Linked DNA regions of Homo sapiens. The protein of the gene in region 3 purifies or fractionates together with the protein of the main gene of each other region. This does not show direct contact. Each region holds a gene or a part of one and is shown on either strand. Other genes may lie near its edges. The genes, in order: TRAP1, ERAP1, EDEM3, DNAJC10, EMC2, NUDCD1 and LMAN1.

What was found.
Region 1: the proteins of EDEM3 (region 3) and TRAP1 purify together in Homo sapiens (affinity purification with mass spectrometry, with the first as the bait; one large-scale study listed by BioGRID). This does not show direct contact.
Region 2: the proteins of EDEM3 (region 3) and ERAP1 purify together in Homo sapiens (affinity purification with mass spectrometry, with the first as the bait; one large-scale study listed by BioGRID). This does not show direct contact.
Region 4: the proteins of EDEM3 (region 3) and DNAJC10 purify together in Homo sapiens (affinity purification with mass spectrometry, with the first as the bait; one large-scale study listed by BioGRID). This does not show direct contact.
Region 5: the proteins of EDEM3 (region 3) and EMC2 purify together in Homo sapiens (affinity purification with mass spectrometry, with the first as the bait; one large-scale study listed by BioGRID). This does not show direct contact.
Region 6: the proteins of EDEM3 (region 3) and NUDCD1 purify together in Homo sapiens (co-immunoprecipitation; one large-scale study listed by IntAct). This does not show direct contact.
Region 7: the proteins of EDEM3 (region 3) and LMAN1 purify together in Homo sapiens (affinity purification with mass spectrometry, with the first as the bait; one large-scale study listed by BioGRID). This does not show direct contact.

The regions. Positions count from the first base shown.
Region 1 is NC_000016.10:3,711,025-3,714,524, forward strand, and holds part of TRAP1 (heat shock protein 75 kDa, mitochondrial isoform 1 precursor), read right to left. Parts: intron 1-3,500.
Region 2 is NC_000005.10:96,801,446-96,804,945, forward strand, and holds part of ERAP1 (endoplasmic reticulum aminopeptidase 1 isoform b precursor), read right to left. Parts: intron 2,499-3,500; 5' UTR 2,482-2,498; coding exon 1,958-2,481; intron 1-1,957. UniProt on the Homo sapiens protein: Aminopeptidase that plays a central role in peptide trimming, a step required for the generation of most HLA class I-binding peptides.
Region 3 is NC_000001.11:184,706,359-184,709,858, forward strand, and holds part of EDEM3 (ER degradation-enhancing alpha-mannosidase-like protein 3 isoform 2 precursor), read right to left. Parts: intron 1,987-3,500; coding exon 1,795-1,986; intron 470-1,794; exon of another isoform or gene 451-469; coding exon 285-450; intron 1-284. UniProt on the Homo sapiens protein: Involved in endoplasmic reticulum-associated degradation (ERAD). Accelerates the glycoprotein ERAD by proteasomes, by catalyzing mannose trimming from Man8GlcNAc2 to Man7GlcNAc2 in the N-glycans.
Region 4 is NC_000002.12:182,792,111-182,794,964, forward strand, and holds the end of DNAJC10 (dnaJ homolog subfamily C member 10 isoform 1 precursor), read left to right. Parts: 3' UTR 1-2,354; downstream 2,355-2,854. UniProt on the Homo sapiens protein: Endoplasmic reticulum disulfide reductase involved both in the correct folding of proteins and degradation of misfolded proteins.
Region 5 is NC_000008.11:108,478,124-108,481,623, reverse strand, and holds part of EMC2 (ER membrane protein complex subunit 2), read right to left. Parts: intron 2,619-3,500; coding exon 2,514-2,618; intron 1-2,513. UniProt on the Homo sapiens protein: Part of the endoplasmic reticulum membrane protein complex (EMC) that enables the energy-independent insertion into endoplasmic reticulum membranes of newly synthesized membrane proteins.
Region 6 is NC_000008.11:109,243,754-109,247,087, forward strand, and holds part of NUDCD1 (nudC domain-containing protein 1), read right to left. Parts: intron 1,729-3,334; coding exon 1,569-1,728; intron 1-1,568.
Region 7 is NC_000018.10:59,342,266-59,345,765, forward strand, and holds part of LMAN1 (protein ERGIC-53 precursor), read right to left. Parts: intron 1-3,500. UniProt on the Homo sapiens protein: Mannose-specific lectin. May recognize sugar residues of glycoproteins, glycolipids, or glycosylphosphatidyl inositol anchors and may be involved in the sorting or recycling of proteins, lipids, or both.

The DNA.
Region 1 (3,500 bases), on a different chromosome or scaffold from region 3:
CTAATTGGAAAAAAAAAAAAAAGGGTTTTTTGGTAGAGATGGGGGTCTCTCTAGGTTGCCCAGGCTGGTCTCAAACTCCTAAACTCACAGGATCCTCCCGCCGCAGCCCCCAAAGTGCTGGGATTACAAGCATGAGCTACCAGGCCTGGCCAATTTTTTACCTTCTAGCCACATTTCTTAATTATATGGCTATGAAGTAACTGAGCCATTCCTTTTAAAACCAATGATTCAGCTACATGTCCTTTCAATCTACCCAATCTACAGGAATTCACCTGGTTAAAAAGCCAATGGCAGGGCTGGGAACGGTGGCGCACACCTGTAATCCCAGCACTTTGGGAGGCCGAGGCAGGCAGATCACAAGGTCAGAAGTTCAAGACCAGCCTGGCCAACATGGTGAAACTCTACCTCAACTAAAAATACAAAAATTAGCCGGGCACGGTAGTGCATGCCTGTAGCCCCAGCTACTTGGGAGGCTGAGGCAGGAGAACTGCTTGAACCCGGGAGGTGGAGATTGCAGTGAGCCGAGTTCGTGCCACTGCACTCCAGCCTGGGAAACAGAGCAAGACTCCATCTTGAAAAAAACAAAAAAAAAACAAAAACCAAAACAAAAACAAAAAAAACACAGGTGGCAGTAATACTCCCGCAAGTAGATACTGTTTCTCCAAGCTACAGCTTTTATGGTAATTCCTAGTGGTTTTAGCAGAAATAACCAGCCACACCACAAATAAACTCCCTGAAATCTATTTTGTTAAATGCTGTGGAACTACAGGGAAGCCACTTTGTGGACTAAGAGCAGCTTCCTAGTAGAAGGCAGGTCTTCAGTAGGACTAAGCAGGACGGTGGTAAGAAAAGTTCTAGCTGGCTACACTTGAGGCACCAAAAACGCCATCCATGAACATTCTCTGGCTTTGAACCCAAAAGCACTTTTTACTTCATTTGAGTATGAATGGATACATTTTCAATCGCTATCAAGATTCTTTGTCAGGCCCGACGTGGTAGCTCATGTCTGTAATCCCAGCACTTTGGGAGGCCAAAGCAGGCAGATCAAAAGGTCAAAAGATTGAGACCATCTTGCCCAACACGGTGAAACCTCGTCTCTACTAAAAATACAAAAATTGGCTGGCCATGGTGGCATGCACCTGTAGTCCCAGCTACTCAGGAGGCTGAGGCAGGAGAACTGCCTGAATTCAGGAGGCGGAAGTTGCAGTGAGCTGAGGTCATGCCACTGCACTTCAGCCTGGCGACAGAAAGAATCTGTCTCAAAAAAAAAAAAAAAAAAAAAAAAAAAAAAAAAAGATATGTCAGCATTTTGAGACAAGCAAGTATCACAGGCCTCAGTAACAGCCTCTTTCATGGAACTCACCTTTGTCACATGGTATTTACTGACATGGGGGGCAGGAGTAAATGTTTATTTTCCCACAGTTTTCTTATCAACCTGACACCCCCATCCCCACCCCGCAAGCTGCATTCCCTCTCTTCCTGCCAAGGGGTAGCAAAATACTTGGAGATTCCTCTTTTGTCTTAGCTTAGGCCAACTACTCACCCAGTAACCAATAAACGCTTTGCTAATCTCTTACATTCGGATTGATGTGTTTGTTTCCAAGACAGAGTCTTGCACTGTCGCCCAGGAGGGAGTGCAGTGGCACAATCTTGGCTCACTGCAACCTCCAACCTCCACCTCCCAGGTTCAAGCAATTCTCGTGCCTCAGCCTCCCAAGTATCTGGGATTACAGGCGCCTGCCACCACCCTGGCTAATTTCTTTGTATTTTTAGTAGAGACGGGGTTTCGCCATGTTGGCCAGGTTGGTCTCAAATTCCTGAACTCAAGTGATCCACCCACCTCGGCCTCCCAAAGTGCTGGGATTACAGACGAGAGCCACCGCGCCCGGCCTGATGTGTTCTTTTTCAGGCACTCAGATAACTCAGTTCCCTTGGTCCTAACTAAGCTGAAGGTCCTCCTGGTGGCCTTGGACAGCTGGGCCACACCTTCCTCTGCCGTCTAAGTGCCAGCACCACAGCTTAATCAGACGACAAACATGTCATGGACGCTACACCTCTAGCGTCATCTCAGCAACACAAAGAGCTGTTTCACAGACAGAGTCGCAACTGACCAGCAAGTACTACTCCCCTCCACTCTGAAAAGAACAGCCGGAGAGCACCAGAAATTCACCTGAATTCTCCTGAAGGGTGCAGCACACAAGACACGGAAATCAAACAGCACAGGCTCCAAACAAAGGGAGAGCAGAGGGAGGAGGCAAAACCCGTCAACAAAACGAAGTACTGAAGGGGAGGGCGCAGCAGGCAGGCACCACCTACAGGAGCGGGGTCCAGGTGAGGCTCTTTTTGGAAGATGAAACAAACTAGCTAGTACTTGAGCCCTGAGCAAAGTGAGGAAACCAGCTCTCCCGACCTTCCTGGTGCTGGCAGGGGACCTACTCTCACAACTCTGATTTCCAAGACAGGAAGTTCCAGCAAAGGCTCCAGCTTACAGAGAACAAAAAGGCCCAAGATCTTAACGCCTGCACCAACCAGTCCTATCGTGGTTGCCTCAGTCATGTTCTGGCAATTTCACGAAAACAAGAGCATCTGGCATGACCAGGAGACTGGACTCGGCACCCTTGGTGATTGTGGCAGTCACCTCGTCATGCAAAATGACCAACCCGTCACCGTACCTGCCTGACCACAGAATCACGTTTGCTTTGGGAGACTGCGTCTGCTGTTGATCTTTCCAGGTCTTCCCTCTCCTTTAGGAGGCGGCCTCATCCTTCTACTGGCACATCTGACACTTCTGACAGTTGGAGCTCTGACGAAAAGCTCTCATGGTGGGCCACGTGGCTGGGCTCCCCACACACCAGGCCCAGGGCTGGCTCTGTGACTGTCCTGAGGAATGCAGGATGAGGCTCCTACGCACAAGCTTATATCTGACAGAAAAGACACAACTGCTAGCCTCATTCACCATCACTCCTGCACACTCCCGCAAGTCTTTCATCAAACCAATTATTCAGAGCTATCTCCTTACCCTTGCACCTGCAGCTTTCCAGACATGGAACGTTCCTCCCTCCCCTCCAGTGAAAACAGCCTTGGACACTCGGCCCAAATCGCTCCTCATCTGTGAAACTTACCCTGGGGCAAGCAGCTCTTGTTTCTCTAATGTGCTGTCCAGGCCACCAAGATGGCCCTGGTACACTGCTCAGCAGCCACCTATGACTCCAGACAGCAGGGTCACATTTTCTTTGACGACTCGGGGGCATTGGAAATGTATTTGCTGAATAAACTGTTATGGGCAAAAATGACAAATATAAAGTCCACAAGCGGATATCCTAGCCCACCCCTCACAGAAATATTCTGAGGGTAGGCCAGGCGCAGTGGCTCACGCCTGTAATCCCAGCATTTTGGGAGGCCAAGGCTAGTGGATCATGAGGTCAGGAGTTCGAGACCACCCTGGCCAGCATAGTGAAACCCCATCTCTATTAAAAATACAAAACCTAGCTGGGTGTGGT
Region 2 (3,500 bases), on a different chromosome or scaffold from region 3:
AGACCCTGTCTCGGGAAGAAAAAAAAAAAAGTTAAAAAGAAAAAGTAAAAAACAGGGAAAATTCATTTAAGAAGTATGTGAGGAAAACTTAATAGCCTTAACAGATAGTGAGATCCTAAAAATATGTAATCCTAAAAATGGCTCATACCTGTAATCTTGGCACTTTGAGAGGCCTAGGCGGGCGGATCACGAGGACAGGAGTTCGAGACCACCCTGGCCAACATGGTGAAACCCCATCTCTACTAAAAATACAAAAATTAGCTGGGTGTGGTGGTGCGCGTCTGTAATCCCAGCTACTCAGGAGGCTGAGGCAGGAGAATTGCTTGAACCCGGGAGGCGGAGGTTGCGGTGAGCCGAGTTCGCGCCACTGCACTCCAGCCTGGGTGACAGAGCAAGACTCCGTCTCGACAAAAAAAAAAAAAAAAAAAAAAAAAAAATCCCCAACAACCAAGGGAATCTCAGGCAAAGTCAAAGGTCATTAACAGGCAATTCATAAAAGAAGAACCTATAAATCATTAACAAACATATCAAAAGCTGCTCAACTTCCTTAATCAAAGTTACGTAAATTAAAAAGAGATCATTTATTTGGGGACCTTTTTTGCTCTAAAAAGACTGCCAATATACACTATTGGTGAGGGGTAAGAAAAAATGACAAAGTTTATCAAAAATTTATAGGCTCTTTGGCTTACCAATTTTACTTCTAGGCATTTATTCTAAAGAAATAATTTACAAAAATGCTCATCAAAGTGTTGTTGATACTGAAAAATTGGAAACAATTTCATTTCCATTCCCGAGGGATTAAAGATATTAATGTACAACTATGTATTTTAATAAAATCATTAAAAAGATGTCTAGTAATAGTCATTTATATAAAACATCTTCCCAACATATTAAGTTAAAAAATTTCCTTGTAAAAGAGAAAATATAAGAATTCTATTTATATAAAATAATATATATGCATATCCAGAAAGAAGTCTGGCAGAATATTCCAGTGAAATAGAAGTAGTGGTCAGTTCAGGGGGCTATGAGTGAAATAAATTTTACTTTCTTACCTTGATAAAATAATATGGAATTTGAAAAATAAATTAGTATAATCTACCAACAAATAAAATTCCATTTTAAAACTGAGCATAAAATCTCCCCCAAATAAGTCTCCTCCTTAAAAACAGAACCAAAGCAAGGTGAGAAGAGATCTCTAAAAAAGTTTTAACTGAGATAAAAGTATTTCCTCTAATATGTTGCTAGTAGGATTTGCTGAAGTCCTAACCTGTAGTATCTGTGCATGTGACCTTATTTGGACATAGGGTCTTTACAAGTATCATGGAGTGAAGAAGAGGCCACCAGGCTGGGCCCTAATCTGGTATGTCTGGTTTCCTTATAAGAAGATGGAGACTGGGACATAGGAAAATAGAATGGCCATGCGACTAACAGAGGGAGAAACTAGAATGACGCAGGTGCTAGGCATGGAGTACCAGGGATCCACGGCCACCACTAGATGCTAGGAAGATATAAGGAAGGATTCTACCCAGAGTCTGGAGGGAGCACGGGCCTGCTGACACCTTGATTTCAGACTTCTAGCCTCCAGACCTGAGAGAGAATACATTTTGTTGTTTATAGCTACCCAGTCTGTGGTACTTTGTTACAACAGCCCTAGGAAACTAATACACAGTTCAGGAAAATTAAACATGTTTATTATGTCTCAGAAATCGAACCAAATAAACAAATAGATATTTACTCTGATAGAGCTGGGGGAAAGAAAATTGGTTAAAATAGAATTTTAAAATGAGATTTAAAAAGCAAGGGAAAAAGCCATTTTTAACACTATAAAGAAGATGCAAAAGCAAAACTGAAGAAAAAGTTCAACAGCAAAGGGAATTTTAAAAGACAATCAATCTGAAATAATGAATTTAGCGTGGGCAGCACTTGCAGTTTAAAAGAAAAAGAGAAAAAAAAATACCTCAGTTCCCCTTCCTTGGTTCTGTAGGTGCTTTTGTAAAATCCGTGGAAAGTCTCCGAAAGATTGCCAGCATAGTGAATGACAACTGTGTACGGGAGCCCGACAAGGAGGGGCTCGGGAGCCAGCAGTGCAATTTGCTCCTGACGGGGGTGTTCCAGGACCTGCAGGGGTTCTTCCGATAGCCTCTCTCCAGCTCCCTTCCTGAGGGTGGCCCTAGATATCTGCAGGTGGTGACTATGCAGGATGATGGTGCTGGTGGGCTGACTGGCTGTGATTTCTACTTTCGTGGTTCCCCAGAAGGTCAGCGTGGTAAGGTTTGCATGGATCAAGAGATCATAATGAACTGGGATGACGTACTCAGGAAGTCGTATTTTATTCCAAGGAAATGGTGTCCCATCACTACGTTTTGGAGATGCTTCAGTGCTCTGACACCATGAAGGAGTGGACACAGTTAAGAGAGCCAACAGTGAGGAAAGTAGAAATGACATGGTTGCAAGGGACCATTTGAGGGGCAGAAACACCATCTTCTTGCTCTACCTACCTAGCGGCACAAATGTACAAAAGCAAAAATATATGTCATTAAAATGTTATTGACACAGCATAATTTCAGAATGTATCCACCCAGCATTCACAGAAATAGGCATAAACTTCCAAAAGTACTAGGTCTTTTCCTGAAAGTAAAAGGACCTTCCCTATGTTATGGTTTCATATAAGAAAGATGTTTACAGTTAGCAACAATCATTAACACGTACTAGAAAGCATCATTTGATGTTCAAAGTTTAAATTAACTCTACCTGTCAGGGTTCTTGGTTGAAAGCAACCGAACAAGCTCTGGCTGATATAGGCAGAAAAGGAATCATTAGGGGATCCTGAGTGGCTCACTACACGGGTCACAGAGTTGCAGGACATTTGGGAAACCAGGCTCATGAAAGAAGCAAAACCAGAACCATATCAGAGGAACATCTGATCAAGCACCACTCCCCACTGACACTGGACCTTGGAGAAAGTCACCCTAGTACCCTGGAAATCAAATGCTGACACAGTGGCAGCCACCACTAGAACGAGGTCTCCACTTCCCCTGTAAGTATATGTAATGGTAACCTTTAATAACATCAGTGTCTTCCTCAAATTGTCATGCCAAAAGTTAATTACCTATTTATTTAGCCAGGAAGAGCTTAAAGAGCTTAATTTTCCCAGTAGTTTGTGGCAAACGTATCAATCACCTGGATTGATTTTAAAGACATAAAAGCAATGTGAATTTCAGGCCAGGCATGGTGGCTCACGCCTGTAATCCCAGCACTTTGGGAGGATGAGGTGGGCAGATCACAAGGTCAACAGATTGAGACCATCCTGGCCAACATGGCGAAATCCCGTCTCTACTAAAAATACAAAAATTAGCTGGGTGTGGTGGTGCGCACCTGTAGTCCTAATTACTTGGGAGGCTGAGGCAGGAGAATCGCTTGAACCTGGGAGGCAGAGTTGCAGTGAGCTGAGATTGCACCACTGCACTCCAGCCTGGCAACAGAGCAAGACTCTGTCTTTA
Region 3 (3,500 bases):
TTATCCATGGTACTGAATTTTTTTACTACTCAGCCCTACCTCACCCTCACACCTAAACCCAAGTATTTTCACTGACATTAATATACAGAAATTCAAATCTAGACTTTTAAAAAAGATGTTAGATATCTAGAAATTAAAAGTCATTGGATTACCTATCCTTGTTGTCTAGGTGAGGTAAAAAAAACTATGACAAACTCTTTGATAAAATTTTAGAAAATAAAAGGGAAAAAATCCTAAAAATTATCTCCCCTTCAGTCAACACAATGACATGGATGATTACTTACCAATAACAATGCCACCAATGGCTCCAGCATTCTGGATGTTGCGTGCCTTTTCTGCAAACATGCACTGTCCTCTTTGTATCAGTGCGATTTTTCCCATCACTGCCTCTGGGTTAGTAAGCTCTGAACAACCATTGGATGGTTTACTGCTTGCAACAAATCCTCTTGTCTGTCAGAAATAAAAGCAACTTAAATACTTTAATCTTCTCAAATGGCAATCAAGTCATTAAACCTCAATATCTAGAGTTTTAAAAGAACTAGAACTCATTTCTTTTCTAATGATAACGTATCTAACATATAGTCACCATAAAATATTGTTTTAAACATTTTGCATATCACAGTACTCAACCAATATTTCTAGTGTGCTTTGCAGTTTATAGAACATTTTTATATAAACTACAAAATCTGTTATTTATAATGACCCTGAGCAAAACAATACAAATAACATTTCCCTTTCACATATGGGGAAATTGAGACTCAGGTTACGTAATTTGCTCACAATGTTAACACGATGTTACTAAGCAGTAAAGTTGGGACCTGCAGGCAGATTCACTACATTTACAATAGCTGGGAACTAATTTGAAATGATCATTGGTAACAAGAAAAGTTTTTGAAAGGGGAAAAAATGGACTTAGTCTATATGAATCTGCAAGCAGTTCTTTTTACCAAAAAAATTAAATCCACCAAGGAACTAATTTTTTTAAACACGTTACTATAAAGATGTTTTAATATCCTTCACTCTACTAAAATGTAAATTCCATAAGGGCATGGATCTTCATTGGTTTTGTAAACTGATACAGCAAGCAGTGCACAGAATATAGTAGGCACTCAATCAACAGTTGAATGAATCAATCAATCTATATAGCTTCTACATAGTTTAAAATATACATGAGAAAAAAGTCTAAATTAGCAGTAATAGAGTGAAAAGAGCATTGGCTTTAGATTGTCACGATACTTGGGCTCTGGTCCCAGCTCTGCAATCAATTAGTTAGATAACTTTGTGAATTGCTTAGTTATGTAAGTCTTTGTTTTCTACGTTATAACTATGTTACAACTATAGAGGATGGACTAGCTAAATGATCTTCAAAGTTTGCCCAGTGGAACCTCAGGGTCCCAGGCTTTCTCCAGTCACTTGAGCCAGAGCTTCTGTGCTTTTAGCTGTTTTCTACATTAAGCTCCTGGTTTAGACTTTTGTTCAAAGAAAGGTTCTAGTGGCTCTTAGAAAGTCTGAAAACCATTTTTAGATCAATTACAGGTATTAAATTAGAGAAGAGACCAAGAAATTGAATAGAACCTGAATAATATTTTAGTTAAAATTCTGTAAGCATATTATATACATAAATTATGACTCAAAGTTTTCAAGACATGCTTTTACTTTACTTAAATCCAGGAGATTGACTATTTCAGTTTTTTAAATAAATTAAAACTACTAAATTAGAGAAGAGACTAAGAAATAAGGCAATACTTAATATTTTAAATTCAGTTTCAACAACTATATTTTAAGTATACATACCTCTTTATGTTTAGACAGATCCAGCCCAAACTGAGCTGGTCCAGCAGTCAATACTACCCTGCCAAAAAATGGGTGGGAAACAATTTGTACAGCTCGTGGAGGCAGCTGCTGTTCTTTTTGTTGCTGACTTGACAATTCAATCATCTCCTGCATGAACCTCAACCCATCTTCAGCGTCGATTGAACTAGCAGCCTATGAAAAAAACAAATTCATTTTATCCTTCCTTTCTGGAAACTTCCACCAATTTTTTGATTTCCTAAAGACACTGTACTGTAGTATTCTACTCTACAACTTCTTCTTTCACTTTAGGTCACCACCAAGTATTTATGACCTTATTTGTACTCAAAAATAATACTTTCAGAAATAGTATTTCTGAAAATAACTTATCCGTATTTTTTATCAATGTCACTTTCGCTATTCTATAAACCACTTTTGATTCAGATTGAGAACTGGACTTCTAGCGAATGCTCAAATGCTCACTTTGCTTATTCTCCCCACTGGCTTTCCCTCTGAAGAAATAAACCTCATACCTGACCCACACTTTCCCTCCTTGAAATAGTGAACAACCAGATTCAATTTGATTCAAAACATATCTGTGAAGCACTTATTCCATCTCAGCACTTGCCTAGGCATTGGAGAGACAGTCCTTTAAGAAATTTGTGTCTGGAGGAGAAAGACATGTAAAGTTAGCTATGATAAAATTTCTCAAGTGGGAAAGTGGAAAAGGAGCACAGATGAGGGAACAATTGATTCTGCTTGTGTGTACCTGGGAAAGATTTAGAATGACACTTGAATTGAGTCTTAACAGAGGGAAAGTTGAAGAATGACTATAATAGAAAAAAATAAGATGATTCCTGATACTTTACAGGAAAAACCAACAAGACATGATAGAAGTTAGAGGATGGAAAAGGATAAGAGGAACTGGAAGAGAAGAAGAGTTCAAACCTATCCTGAAATTTCCAGCTTTGATGACTTAAAGAATGATGATAGGTTTTACTGACATGGAGAGCCAAAGAAGGAAACATAGGTTGAGGTGAGGGTAGAAAGAGAGTAAACAAGAAAGAGATAATTCAAGTTTGGACAGATTGAGATTGAGATGCAAGATGTATGAGAGGTAGATGAAAGTTGAATTTAATAGTAAATTTAGGAATCAGGATTCACATACATAGCTAAGAAGTCATATGTATAAAAATGATAGCTAAGCTTGTAGAAATAGGTGACACTGTTGAAGAAGAGTATATAGAGAAAAGAATATCATCCAGATTCTTGGAAACTGTTTACATTGAGTGGTTGTGCCAAGGAGAGCTACAAAGCAATAAACAGTGAAGTAGAAAAAGAACTTTGTTTCTGAAATATCCTGGGAAGCCAAAAAGGGAAAATGTTTTATGAAGGGTTCAGCCAATAGTTACAGAAAAGTTAAATCATATAAGGATCAAGAGGCCACTTGGCAGTAATTATGCCATTGGCAGCCTAAGTAAGTAAAAGCAATGTCACAAGAGATGTCACTCCCACTGAGGCCAAATAAAATACAAGGAAGAAGGAAGAATACTCTTAAAAGAAGGAAGGATGTGGCAAGAATATGGATGAGATGAAAACTTGAGGGTGTGATGAAGTTGTGGGAGGGTTGAATTTGAGATTAAAGGATACCTGAATATGGTTCTAGGTTAAAAATTATTCAGCAAACTATGTGGTTTTCTCAGAATCAA
Region 4 (2,854 bases), on a different chromosome or scaffold from region 3:
AATACATGTTCAAAGAGTAAATTAAAGAAAAAAGAGATGCTCAAGTCAATTTATAAGTAATCCTCACAAATGCTTGCATACCATCAGTGAACAATTATTTTTTTATCTCCATGCTATAATCTTGCACAAGTTTCATTAGAATTAAATGCACTATCTGAAGTCTATGTTTATTAAATGAGGATTACAGTAGTTGGTTATCTTTGTGAGGGGTTTTGAGGGTTGTGGAACAGGATAACATTTTGAGGTACAAAAAATAATGAAGAGGATATATTCCAATTTCTTTCCTTCCCCAAGGCTTTTCATTACAGCTGTTATAAACCCTGGTAGAATTGATTGGTTTCCTTTTCAGCTTCCTGTTTTGTCCCTCAATGTTCACAAAAGTCCCATCTGATAAATGTATTGTTTAACCTCTCATTGTTTGAAAGAACACCTCTTTGCTCCCCACAGATTACAGACCTATTGGCTTAAGCAGTCCATCTAAATGCATGCCAGTTTCTTTCTTGATAAATTAGAGGCCTATAACCTCAAACCAGTTTATCTGCAAGAGAAGTGTGTGAAGTTAGACTCAATTCTTCCGCTAATGGAACATCGTAATCCTCCTTGTCATCTTTCCTTTGGCCTTCCTGAATAGAAATCATTTATGAGGAAGTTACATGAGCTCAACATGAGCCCCATGTCACTCAGCAAACATTTATTTGAGTACTTACAATGTGCTAGGCTTTGTTCTATGCATTTAAGATAGTGTATTAAATGTATTGACCTCATGAAGATTCTATTCTCGCAGTGGGGAGATAGACAATAAACAATTAATATAAGCAAATGTTAAGTATGTTAGAAGTATGTTAGAAGATGTGCTGTGAAATAAAGAAAAAGGTAGACCAGGGTATGAGGGATTAGGAGTGTGGGGGCAGCAGCAGGAGAGTTTCGGTATTAAATAGGGTGGACAGGGCAGGTCTCTTGGAGAAGATGCCATTGAAGGAGGTGGAAAAAATGTAGCCACTAAATGGGCTGAGGGTAGAGCATATGAACAGAGAGAAAGGCCAGAGGACAGGCTCCAAGGCATGCTTGGCAGGTTCAAGGAACAGCAGGGAGGCTCATGTGGCTGGAATGGAGTGAGCTAGCAGGAGAGAAGATGAAGTTAGAGGGAGAGAGAAAGTGGGGAGCCAGATCATAGAGGGCTTTGCAGGTCACTTGTAAGGACTTTAGCTTTCTAACTTTTGTAAGGACTTCAACTTCTACTCACAGTGAAATTGTGAAATTCCAGAACCAAAAAGAAGATCCTGGTAAAAGAGAAACTTTCAGCAAAATATATTTAACATTTTATTTGAGTGAAGAACAATTCATCCATCAGGCAGCACTGAGAACCAGAAGACATTCAGAGAGCTCTGCTTTGCGAGGTATGCAGTGAACATTCATAGACAGAAAACAAAAATTAAGTACAGAAATAGCTTGATTGGTTACAGATAGGCATTTGCCTTATTTGGACATGGTCTGCTCCAAATAAGGCAAGTTGGCAGCATGCAATTGGCTGTGACCTATCTGTTACAAAAATATATCTATATAATCCTAAATTAGGTTTCAGTTTATTTAAGTACTAAATTAGGTTGCAATTTATTACATGGGAACTCAAAGTCTGGAGACAGCCTCAGGCCAAGGTCCTCTTGCTTATTTAATTTAGCAATCCTAAAATTTTCCAGAGAGGAAACACATCACACACACACACACACACACACACACACACACACACACACACACTACCTACAAAAAAATAACAATTAGAAAGTAATTGGAGCTTGAAGTATTCTAGAAGACTTTGGAGCAAAGCCTTCCAAATTCTGAGAGGAAAATATTTTTAACCTAGGATTCTATTCATACCTACCCAGACTAACAAGTAGCAGGCAGATGATAAATATATTTTTAGGTGGTTAGGTGATGAAACACCTCCTCCAAATGAAGGCATAAACAACAATGCATGGGGATCCAAGAAACAGTGACTCCAACCCAAGAGAGCAGTGAACAAATCCACAGGACAGCAGCTAAGTAGGAGGCCTAAACATCACCTGGGGCAGATGGGGCGAGAGAGCAGAGAGCTTGGGAAAGAAGTCTCTGAGGAGAAAGAATGAGGCAATAAGTCAGATGCGTATTTGCGGACCTCAGAAAAATTTGAGTACATAGGAAACAATAGATGAAGGATAGAAATAATCCATTCAGATTCTCTCCTTTGCATGATGACCACATTAAACTTACAGAGTAAGAAATGTCATTCTAGATTTGATTCTACTGTTTGTCTTTGCAGTGAGCTATGTTTTTTTATAACATGTAGAAGTGAAATAAACTTGTCACAAAAATGCAAATTGTGTCACCAATTTTCAGCTTAACAACATAAAAATAATTATATACACTGACCCAGGTTAAGGACGGGTAGAAGTACGAATGTCCTTATCTTCCAGAGTGAAGTGAGGCTGTAGTCAGGCATTGCAAACTCACATAGTTAAGGGTGTTTTGTAGGTAAAGTACATGACGGTAGTTAGTGCATGCACTATTTTAAAAAGGCAGTAGTTTCTCTGCTCCAAAAGAGTATTGTCATGAAGAAAGAGACCCAGATGTTCCAGTTTACCCAGAATTTACCCCAATCCGGGTTTTTATGTAAAATATTTCAAATGTTCACAACTACTTAAAACATTTAAATATATGAGGGTCAAACAATACCATATCCAGCCTGGGGTTTCCAGTTTGTGACATTGCTACAGCAGATGGATAAGAAAATGAAGTAAGGTGTTTGAATGTATGAAATTAACCAGTATAGATGTTAAACTGGCAGCAGCAGCTCTAGAGTATGGAAGGGCCATCCGGT
Region 5 (3,500 bases), on a different chromosome or scaffold from region 3:
CTGTTATAATTCTTATTTCTATGTTATTAATTTAGTAAAAATTGATTTTAAAATAGTTATGTCAAAAAAGCACTCTGAGTAGCTGTTTCTCATATCTTAAAAACAATTATGTAGTATGCATAACGTTACTTTTATATTACACAAATCTTTTTTTTTAATATTACATAAATCACACACACCCACACACCCCCAAGCCTACTCTGTGTGGAACTCCATTACAGATCTGAGCTATCCCAAACTGCATTTGAAGAAGCACAGTCTCACTAATATTTATAAATACTCTGACTTAGAATATGCCAACAAAACTAACATGCTCTATAACAGACAATAAAAATACACAAAGGTGACTTTCAATGATGTGATTATGGAGGCACTACATTTGTAAAATCTTCTCAATTTTCTCCAACCAGAAGGGCAAAAACGAACAACAAAAAGCCAGCACCAAAACCAACATAACAGAACCCACGCCCACAGGTGACATTTTCAAAAAAACTAGGTAACAGTCAATTTTCCAAACCCTAGAATGTGACTATGTCATCAAGAGCAGCATGACCAACAAAAGATTAACAACTGTGTGGTAGGAGGAATAGAAAGTAATAGAGGACAACCTACTACTCTACAAGAAACCAAAAACCAAACAAATTATGAATTCTTAATCCACTAAACAAGAAAACCTGAGATGATGCAGCTGCCAATGGCCTAGAAGTCTTCATAAGCTCCAAAACAAAGATAAATGTAAAAAACTGCTCATAAATGTGAGATTAGACAAGTCTAACCGTCTAATATCTTAAAATTTCTAAAATATCTAGCAAACATCCTCTTCCAGAAGGACAAAACCTCACACCCTGAAGAAAAACAATTAAAAACTGAAACCAAACTGAACAGGGCAGAAACACCAGGGCAAGAAGGAGAGATGGTTCAGACAAGGAGGGGTGAGGAAAGGAGTGATGCCCAGAGGCAGCAATCCCAGAAGAAAACAAAACAAAAAGGAAGAAACACAAACTGTAACAACAATATGTAACATTTAAAGTGAGAGCAACACCTCAGAATTCAAGACTTTGAGGGCTCTAGAAACAGAACAGAGGGCTGAAGCCAGAAAATCTTTCTGAGTCACACTGAGTTCTAAGACAGACTGGCCATTCATACTCAGTTCTAAGAAAGACCGGCTATACAAAGAGGTCATATTTGAATTCTCTTTAGCAAAAAAGGAGACGGCCATAGAATAGCCAAGCTGGGAAAGCTACCCTAACCTATCTCCAACTCCCTGCCATTCCATAAACATTGTCTCCTAATAGTCCAGGAAAACTACCTCATTTAAACATGGAGGAAAGAAAAATATGAATCAAATTCATATTTTTATAAAATACAGAAAATGACAAAATAATTTGAAAGAAAATGAATAAAGGACATAGAAAAATGAAGTCTAATACACGTATTACTGAAACCCTGAAAAAGAAAACTAAGCAGAGAAAAAAATATTTGTAATTCTAAAAGCAACTTTTCTCAAATAAAAGGGCTAAACTGATGTACTAAATGGGTGTACTGTGTATTTGGGAAAACTGACCCAAGAATAATCAATAAAACAAATCATAGTAAGACTACTGGATTTTAAAGATAAAGAAAAAATTCCTTTGCGTAACCAGACAAGTCACTTATGATAAAAAGTAAGTCAAGACGGCATCATATTTCCTGACGGCAACATTTTATTCTGAAACAGAATGAAATAGCTGGGCATGGTGATGCCTGCACCTGAAGTCCCAGCTACTTAGGAGGCTGAGGTAAGAGGATCACATGAAGCCAGGAGTTCATGGCCAGCCTGGGCAATATAGCAAGATCTCGTCTATATTAAAAACAAAACAAAACTGAACAGTATGCTTAAGATACTTAGGTAAAGTATTAACGGGTATATAAAAAGCCAAATTGTCCTTTAAATATAAAGGCTATAGACAAATAAGGCTAAAGACATAAAAAGATGTGTTTTCCCATGAGCAAATTTCTAACGAAAAATAATTTCCTAAAAAATCTGCTAAGGACGAACTTTAGAAAACTAAGATACAAATGGAGAAGTTTCAGTAAAGGATCTGAAGTGTAAGCAGACTGCACAAACTTTGTTATGCAGTTTGATTAGTTTAAGGCTTTCTTCCTTCTTTTCTATTTCTTGAGATACCTATGATTAATAATACACTCACATACCCAATCTGCTTCTGAAATGTGACGTGATATTTATTTATCCTTTCTGAGTTTTTAGAATTACTTTGCGTTTGCCAAATGCAGAACCACTGAGATTTCCATATGGTAAGGCTAATTATGAAATAATAATACTAACAGATTCCTCTTGAGGGGAAAAAAAGGTAATCTTAAAACTACAAATTAATTCAAAACACAACACATTTGATAAAGCCCCAAAGGCATATATAAGTCCAATGCTAGACATACGACTTTGTAGTTTGTAGTAACAAAACTAAGAAATACATTAACTGACCTACATAGCAAAATGATCAATAAATACTAACCTGATAAGCTCTGTTTATTTGACTAGCTGCCCAACTAGCATATTTCATGTTGTCCTTTTTCGTTTTTGCACTTGCTTTTGGATTAGAAGCAATATGACTTGCCGACTAAAAACAAATAAAAACATCAAAAGCAAAATTCCTTTTTTGCTAGTCAAGATAATCAAAAACATAAGGGACATGGTTGCAATGGGATAATAAAGAATTTTTAAAAACTGTATTAAAATAATTTTTAATATAAACATAAAGTTGAATATTAGTGCTTAAAAATGAAAATATATTTTAAAATATAGTATAAATCCAAAATAGTGGAAAGGGAAAAGATATTTTAAATAATACCTAAAATTATTTAATTATGTACCTGTAACAGCTCTTAAAGGTAAAATTCCATATCATTTAAATAAAGAAGCTCTAGAAGAACACTTTATAAACCAAAAGCACTTTACCACTGTAGGATATTACTGGTGTTATTTCTTATTACTGAATTACATAACTTGCTATGTCAGAATCATAGAATTATTGAATATTTATAGAAAAAGGAAACTCAAAAATAATTTAGCCTGACATCCTACATTAATAGGTTAAAGAAATTTAAGTCCAATAAGAGAGATTTAACTTGACCAAAGCAAAATAATGGGTCTTCGAAATAAAGAAGATCCTTATCTCTAATCCATTTCTCTTTTCACTATACCATGAGTTTTCAAACTGTGTTTCAGAGAACTAATTAGTCCCTGCAATTTGATCCACCCTCTCCTTTTTAAAAATGTATTTAAATGAGCGGTTCTTAATCTGGGATCTGTGAAAGAATCCATAAAACCCCAAAATCATATGCTAATTATTAAATGTATATATTACTGTGAAGAGTAAGATATAACTTGATTCCTATTCTTAAATATATTTTACTCTTAAAAGAATATGACCATGTGATTCAAAAAAAGGTTAAGCCTTTGTTTTATGCCAGCCTGTGCTATAGGCTCTTTCACCTATGTC
Region 6 (3,334 bases), on a different chromosome or scaffold from region 3:
TTTTCTGTTCATAATGTATCCCTGAATGTACTAGTATTCGTGATGCATTCTCTTATTATCCCTAAAATGTTAGTGATATTTTTATACATCAATACCAACACTGTAACTGGATTTTTTTGTACTTTTAGCCCCCACAAGTAGAATGTTGATCACTATAACTTCAAAAATAATTTCAAGTCTCTAAACTGAAAAAAATCCTTATCTTAATTCATGTACATGTTTAAAAAGTATCTTTTTGGATTAAAACAACATTTATATTCCAAAATATAAATTATGATTTTTAGATAGTGACATGGTTAGCAAATGTTAGGTATTTATGATCATGTAAAATAAGAATATAACATTAATTAAAATTGAGATCTCATCAAACAATGAATAAGCAAAGGAACTACTGAGCACATGCAGATCAATACTGTTTTTAAAAATATTAAGCAGGTTTGAAGCAGGAAAAGTGAAGATTTAGATACCTATTTAAATAGTTTAAAGTAGCTATCCAGGCTAACCTTGACAGAATAATGTATATAATATTTCAAGAGTACATATCTAATATATGTTGATTTAACTTAGAATTAAGCATAGAATTCCCCTATAATAGGGGATTTGGGGATACAAATAGAACATCTGAGCATCTAAAGATGATATGATAGAGCTTTCTTCTGACCAAAGTATAGATAATTAAAAAATAGCATTATAGTAGGGAGGCTAAAAATTATATGGTTAAATTAGTTAACCAAACTTTGTACTTCAGGTCATAAAAATCCATTTGGAGTCTGAACCAGTTTAGCAGCCTACATTATTAACTATAAGGGATAATTAATAAATTTCTTCTACAATTAGGGTTGTGCACATATAGCCATCAAAATACGTAACTTCACTTCTTGCTGCCTGTTTAAAATAACCTTTCAATAAAGCAACAACTGTGGCTAATTCACATAAAAAATTTCTGTCACACAATACTAATGCATTTTGACAGAAAATCAATGATTGCATACGTCTATAATTAAGTAGTTTAAACATTGTCAAGCCCTAATTTTAAAACTGATTTTTTTCCTTTTATCCTACCAAATAAATTTAATTTCTGCTTATCACCGCTTTCCATAAGTATTTTCATTATAATGGCTCTCTTTTGTACTTAATTTTGACAAAAGATGTCTCCTAATGTGCATTACACCTTAGGGGAATTCTATGATGTTTCTGAAGATTACTCTGAAGAAACTTGAACACCAGTTCCATGTAGGGTATTATCAAGCTCCTTGCTCAGACTCCAGTATTATATGGCTTACAGAATTAGAAAAAGCAAATGACTTATTAGAATAATTCAAGTGGTTAGATAACCACTTTCATTTCTATTCTGTGTTGATCTTCTGTACAAGCATAAAAACAGATTAGTCTAAATGTTCCAACAGTGCTAACACTCACAACTAGTACAAGCAAACAAATCATAGCGCAAATCAATCTAAATGTAATCAGGACAGCTCAAATTAAAAAGAAAAAAAAGAAATGAACTTTAAATGAATGATGACTGTATTTCTGATTTCATGGAAAATGTCAAAGAGTTTGCTTTATACCTAAAGCATTGAAAGTTGCGATGTGCTCCCACATATCATCTTGTTTGCTGGAGTGTGGTTGCCAGAGTAGGGCATCAACATCATGGCGCAAACAGAAGCAGGGCATTTCTTTAGGATCCACTATGACAGAGAAAAGGTACTGGTTGCTTCCAAGATTCACCTAAAAAGTGATTTAAAAAAAAATTTACTCAACAACAAATTAATAATAGCAACAATAACAATGGCAGAAGCTGACAGCCAGCATTAAGTGTCAGCAACTGTTTTATACTTTTTATATACTTAATCTGATTGACTCCTCATAATATCCCTGAGATAAATGTGCTACTGTTATGTTCATTTCAAAGCTGAGGAAAGTGATGCACAAGGCATTTAGGTAACTTGTCGATGGTCAGCCTGGCCATAAGTCATGGAGCTGAAATTTGGACCCAGAGTCTATGTTCTTAATCACCACGTGATATACCACCTCTTAATTGTTAGTAAATAGTTTAAAACACGATATAAAGCAGGGGTCCCCAGTCACTGAGCCGCAGACTGGTACCAGTCAGTGGCCTTTTAGGAACTGGGCCGCACAGCAAGAGATGAGCAGCAGGCAAGGGAGCATTACTGCCTGAGCTCCACCTCCTGTCAGATCAGCAGTGGAATTAGATTCTCACAGGAGGGTGAACACTATTGTGAAATGCACATGCAAGGGATCTAGGCTGTCTGCCTTATGAGAATCTAACTAATACCTGATGATCTGAGGTGGAACAGTTTCATCCTGAAACCATCCACCAAGCCCCCACAGGCCCATGGAAAAACTGTCTTCCACAAAACTGGTCCCTGGTGCCAAAAAGGTTGGGGACTGCTGATATAAAGCACCAATTTTATAAGCAGACTATTTTTAGGCCATAGAATACACACATGAAGTTTACTAATGCTAACTTGTAATAATTACCAAGAACAATGACACTACCAGAATTTATGAGCACACTCTCATAACATTTATAACCAGGCATGTTATAAATACTAATCTTAACAACTCGCAAGGCTATTATTATCTTCATTTAAGGGATGAAAGAACAGGCTTGGAGAGTTTGAGTAACTTGTTCTAGGCTAAAGAGAAATATCACAATGCTGGAATTCACACTCAGATGTTTAAAACTATTTACTTAAACGTACTGCTTAATTAAAGTATCAATGTCAATATGTCAATAATGTCAACATTTGTTATTGTAACACATCAATAATTGTTACTGCAATATTGATGCCTAAAGAAATGCATTTTAATACAAAATCATCAAATTGAAACTCACTGAATTTCATCTACAGCAATACTTTTTCTAAATGAAGACATGTTGTAAGGATAGTCTTCTTTATGAGAAATGTTATTATCAGAGTTGAAAATACGAAACAGAATACCAACAAAAATCACATCAAATGTAGAAAATATAAAATATGCACAGTACTTATAAATATGTAATTGATTCTAGGAGTTTGCAAGCAGACTGGAGAACCGTAAAAGATTGGGTTAAAGTAAGAAGTGGAGACCTGACCTGAATTCAACAGGGAAAGCTGTGAAGTGGCTCTCCAGCAAGGGGACCTATTATTGGTAAAGCTGTGACAACACAGGCTATTGGTCACAGGAGAATACAGTGTCAGAGCAACCCATCTTCTGCTCCCCAGCAATGCCAGGGAAATAGGGCTTTTTCGTAGAGCCAGTGCTTGCTCTCTACAAAATAAGGGGAGAAGGCCAGCACACAGAGACCACAGACTATTTCTTTTCTCTC
Region 7 (3,500 bases), on a different chromosome or scaffold from region 3:
CTCCTGAAATTATTCCAAAACACTGAGGAGAGAATTCCCCCTAACTCATCCTATGAGGGCGGTATCACCCTGATACCAAAACCAGACAAGGACACAAAAAAATAGAAAACTACAGACCCATATCCCTGATGAACAAAGATGCAAAAATCCTCTACAGAATACCAGCAAAATGAATCCTACAGCACATCAAAAAGATAATACAGCACGATCAAGGTGGGATTTATCCCAGGGATGCAAGGAGGGTTCAACATATAAAAATCCATATATATGATACACCACATAAACAGAATTAAGAACAAAACACATGATCATTTCAACAGACTCAGAAAGGACATTCAATAAAATTCATCATCCCTTCATGATAAAAATCCTCAATGAACACACCTCAACATTAGGCCACATATGACAAACCCACAGCCAACCTCACACTTAACAGGGAAAAGTTGAAAACATTCCCTTTAAGAACTGGAACAAGACAAGGATGCCACTTTTATCACTCTTACGTGTAATAACATAATACTAGAAGTCTTCACCAGAGCAATCAGGCAAGAGAAAAAAATAAAAGGCATCCAAACTGGAAATGAGTAAGTAACATTATCCCTGTTTGCTAATGATATGATCTTATATCTCAAAAATCCTAATGACTCCACCAAAAAACTCTTAGATTTGATAAATGAATTCAGTAATGTTTCAAGATAAAAAATTAATGTACAGAAATCGGTAGCATTTTCATATACTGATAATGATCTAGCAGACCAAATCTAGAAGGCAATTCCATTTACAACAGCTAAAAAAAAAAAAAAACACCTAGAAATATATTTAACCAAGAAGGGGAAAGCTCTCCATAAGGAGAACTTCAAAACAACGATGAGAGAAATGGTAGATGACACAAACAAATGGAAAAGTATCCCATGCTCATGAATTGGAAGAATCAATATTGTTAAAATGACCATACTGCCCAAAACTATCTACTAGTTCTAGACACTCCCAATCAAATTACCAATGTCATTTTTCACAGAATTAGAAAAAAAAAATCCTAAAACTCATATGGAAAAAAAAGGGAGCCCAAATAGCCAAAGCAATGCTAAGCAAAAGGAATAAATCTGGAGGCATCACATTACCTGACTTCAAATTATACTACAAGGCTAAAGTAACCAAACCAGCATAATACTGGTATAAAAACAGACACATAAGTCAGTGGAACAGAACAGAGGACCAGGAAATAAACCCACATACCTACAATCAACTGATCCTCAACAAAGTCAACAAAAATAAACACTGGGGAAAGGACATCCTATTCAATAAACGGTGCAGAAAAAATTGAATAGCTATATATAGAAGAATGCAAGTGGACCCATACTTCTCACCATATGCAAAAATTAACTCAAGATGGATTAAAGACCTAAACATAACACATGAAACCATACAAATCCTAAAAGAAAACTGAGGAAAGACTCTTCTGCATATTGGCCTAGGTAAAGAACTTAGACCAAGTCCTCAAAGGCAAACACAAGAAAAACAAAAATAGACAAATGGGACTTAAACTAAAAAGCTTCTACACAGCAAAAGAAACAATCAACACAATAATCTAACCTACAGAATGGGAAAAAATATTTGCAAACTATGCATCCAACGAAGGGCTAATATCCAGAATCTACAAGGAACTCAAACAACTCAAGAGAAAAACAAAAAGCCCATTAAAAAACTGGGCAAAGAGCATGAACAGACATTTTTCAAAAGAAGACACGCAAGTGGCCAACAAATAAATGAAGAAATGCTCAACATCACTAATCATCAAAAAAATCCAAATTAAAACCACAATGAGATACTATCTTACACAAGTCACAATGGCCATTATTAAAAAGTCAAAAGACAACAGATGTTGTCAAGATGTGGAGAAGAGGGAATGCTTATATGCTGTTGGTGGGAATGTAAATTAGTACAACCTTCATGGAAAACAGTATGGAGAATTCTCAAAGAACTAAAATTAGAATTACCGTTTGATCCAGCAATCCCACTACTGGGTGTTTACCCAAAGGGAAAGAAATCATTATATCAAAAAGATACTTGCACTTATACGTTTATTGCAGCCCTATTTACAATAGCAAAGATATGGAATCAACCTAAATGCCCATCAACAGAGAACTTGATAAAGAAAATGTGGCGTGTGTGTGTGTATATATGTATGTATATACTATAGACTACTACTCAGCCATAAAATAAGAATGAAATTATGTCTTTTGCAGCAACATGGATGGAACTGGAAGTGATTATCCCAAGTGAAATGACTTAGAAAGTCAAATACCATACATTCTCACTTATAAGTAAAAGCTAAACAATGGGTACACATGGACAAATGGAGTGGAATAACGGACACTGGAGACTACAAAAGGTGGGAGGGGAATGAAGGTTGAAAATTACCCACTGAGTACCAGGTTCATTAGGGTGAGAGTACACTAAAACCCCAGACTTCACCACTATATGACACAAGCATATAAGAAATCTGCACTTGTACTCTTCCTAAATACATAAAAAGTTAAATAAAATTAAAATGGAAAAATATTTCTCTTTCATTACACTGTGTGATTCTACTTATAAGAATAGGCAGAACTAATCTACAGTGATAACAATAAGAATAGTGATGGGCTCTGTGGAGAAGGTTGTTGACTTTAAGGAGGCATGAGGGAACTTTCTGGGATGATAAAAATGTTCCGTGTACTGATCGGGGTGATGGTTAAATGGGTATACACATTTGTCAAAATTTACTAAACAATACTTTTCAAACACTAAAGTCAGCTTCAGGATATACTCACAAATTTTATGTGATGATGTTTAAAACAAATTCAAAATAAGAATGACCTTTATGTTTCATTTTTAAATTCATTAAGTCTGACTCATACTGTTGATCATTAAGAGAACTGCATACTACATAGAGTTCAAATGCTAGCCACAGCCTTTATTAAGTACACCTTTGATCACTTATGCTGACTGGGAACAATTCAGATAAAAAGCTAGCAGATAATATAAATTCCCTCAATTTGGCCTTAAAATGTTTTATTTTTGACATTAGCACACTCACGTTCTTAATAACATTGGGTTAGACTAGTATTTTATAATTTTCAAGTATACAGTCCAGGATTCTATCGAGTAGTATGGGGAGGAGAAGCAGATATGTCACATTACTTTCACAACAGTTTTGATAGATTTTAAGGATTATCTCCACACTATAAGGTAATTATGTGTCACTAAAACCAAAAATATACACTTTTGATGATTTCAGTCAAAAAATATTTACTGAACCTGAACTACTAGGTTAGCATTGTTTTGGATTTATTTTTAGGCTTAGTGGTCACAGCAATGAATATTAACAAAATCCCTGTCCTCATGGAGCTTTCACTCTAGCGGTCCCATTCCTCCAAATAACCATGGTACTCTTTATTTCATACATGACTAAGCCACATTCTCACTGGTAAAAATGCCAATCTCTTGACTCTTAAAGA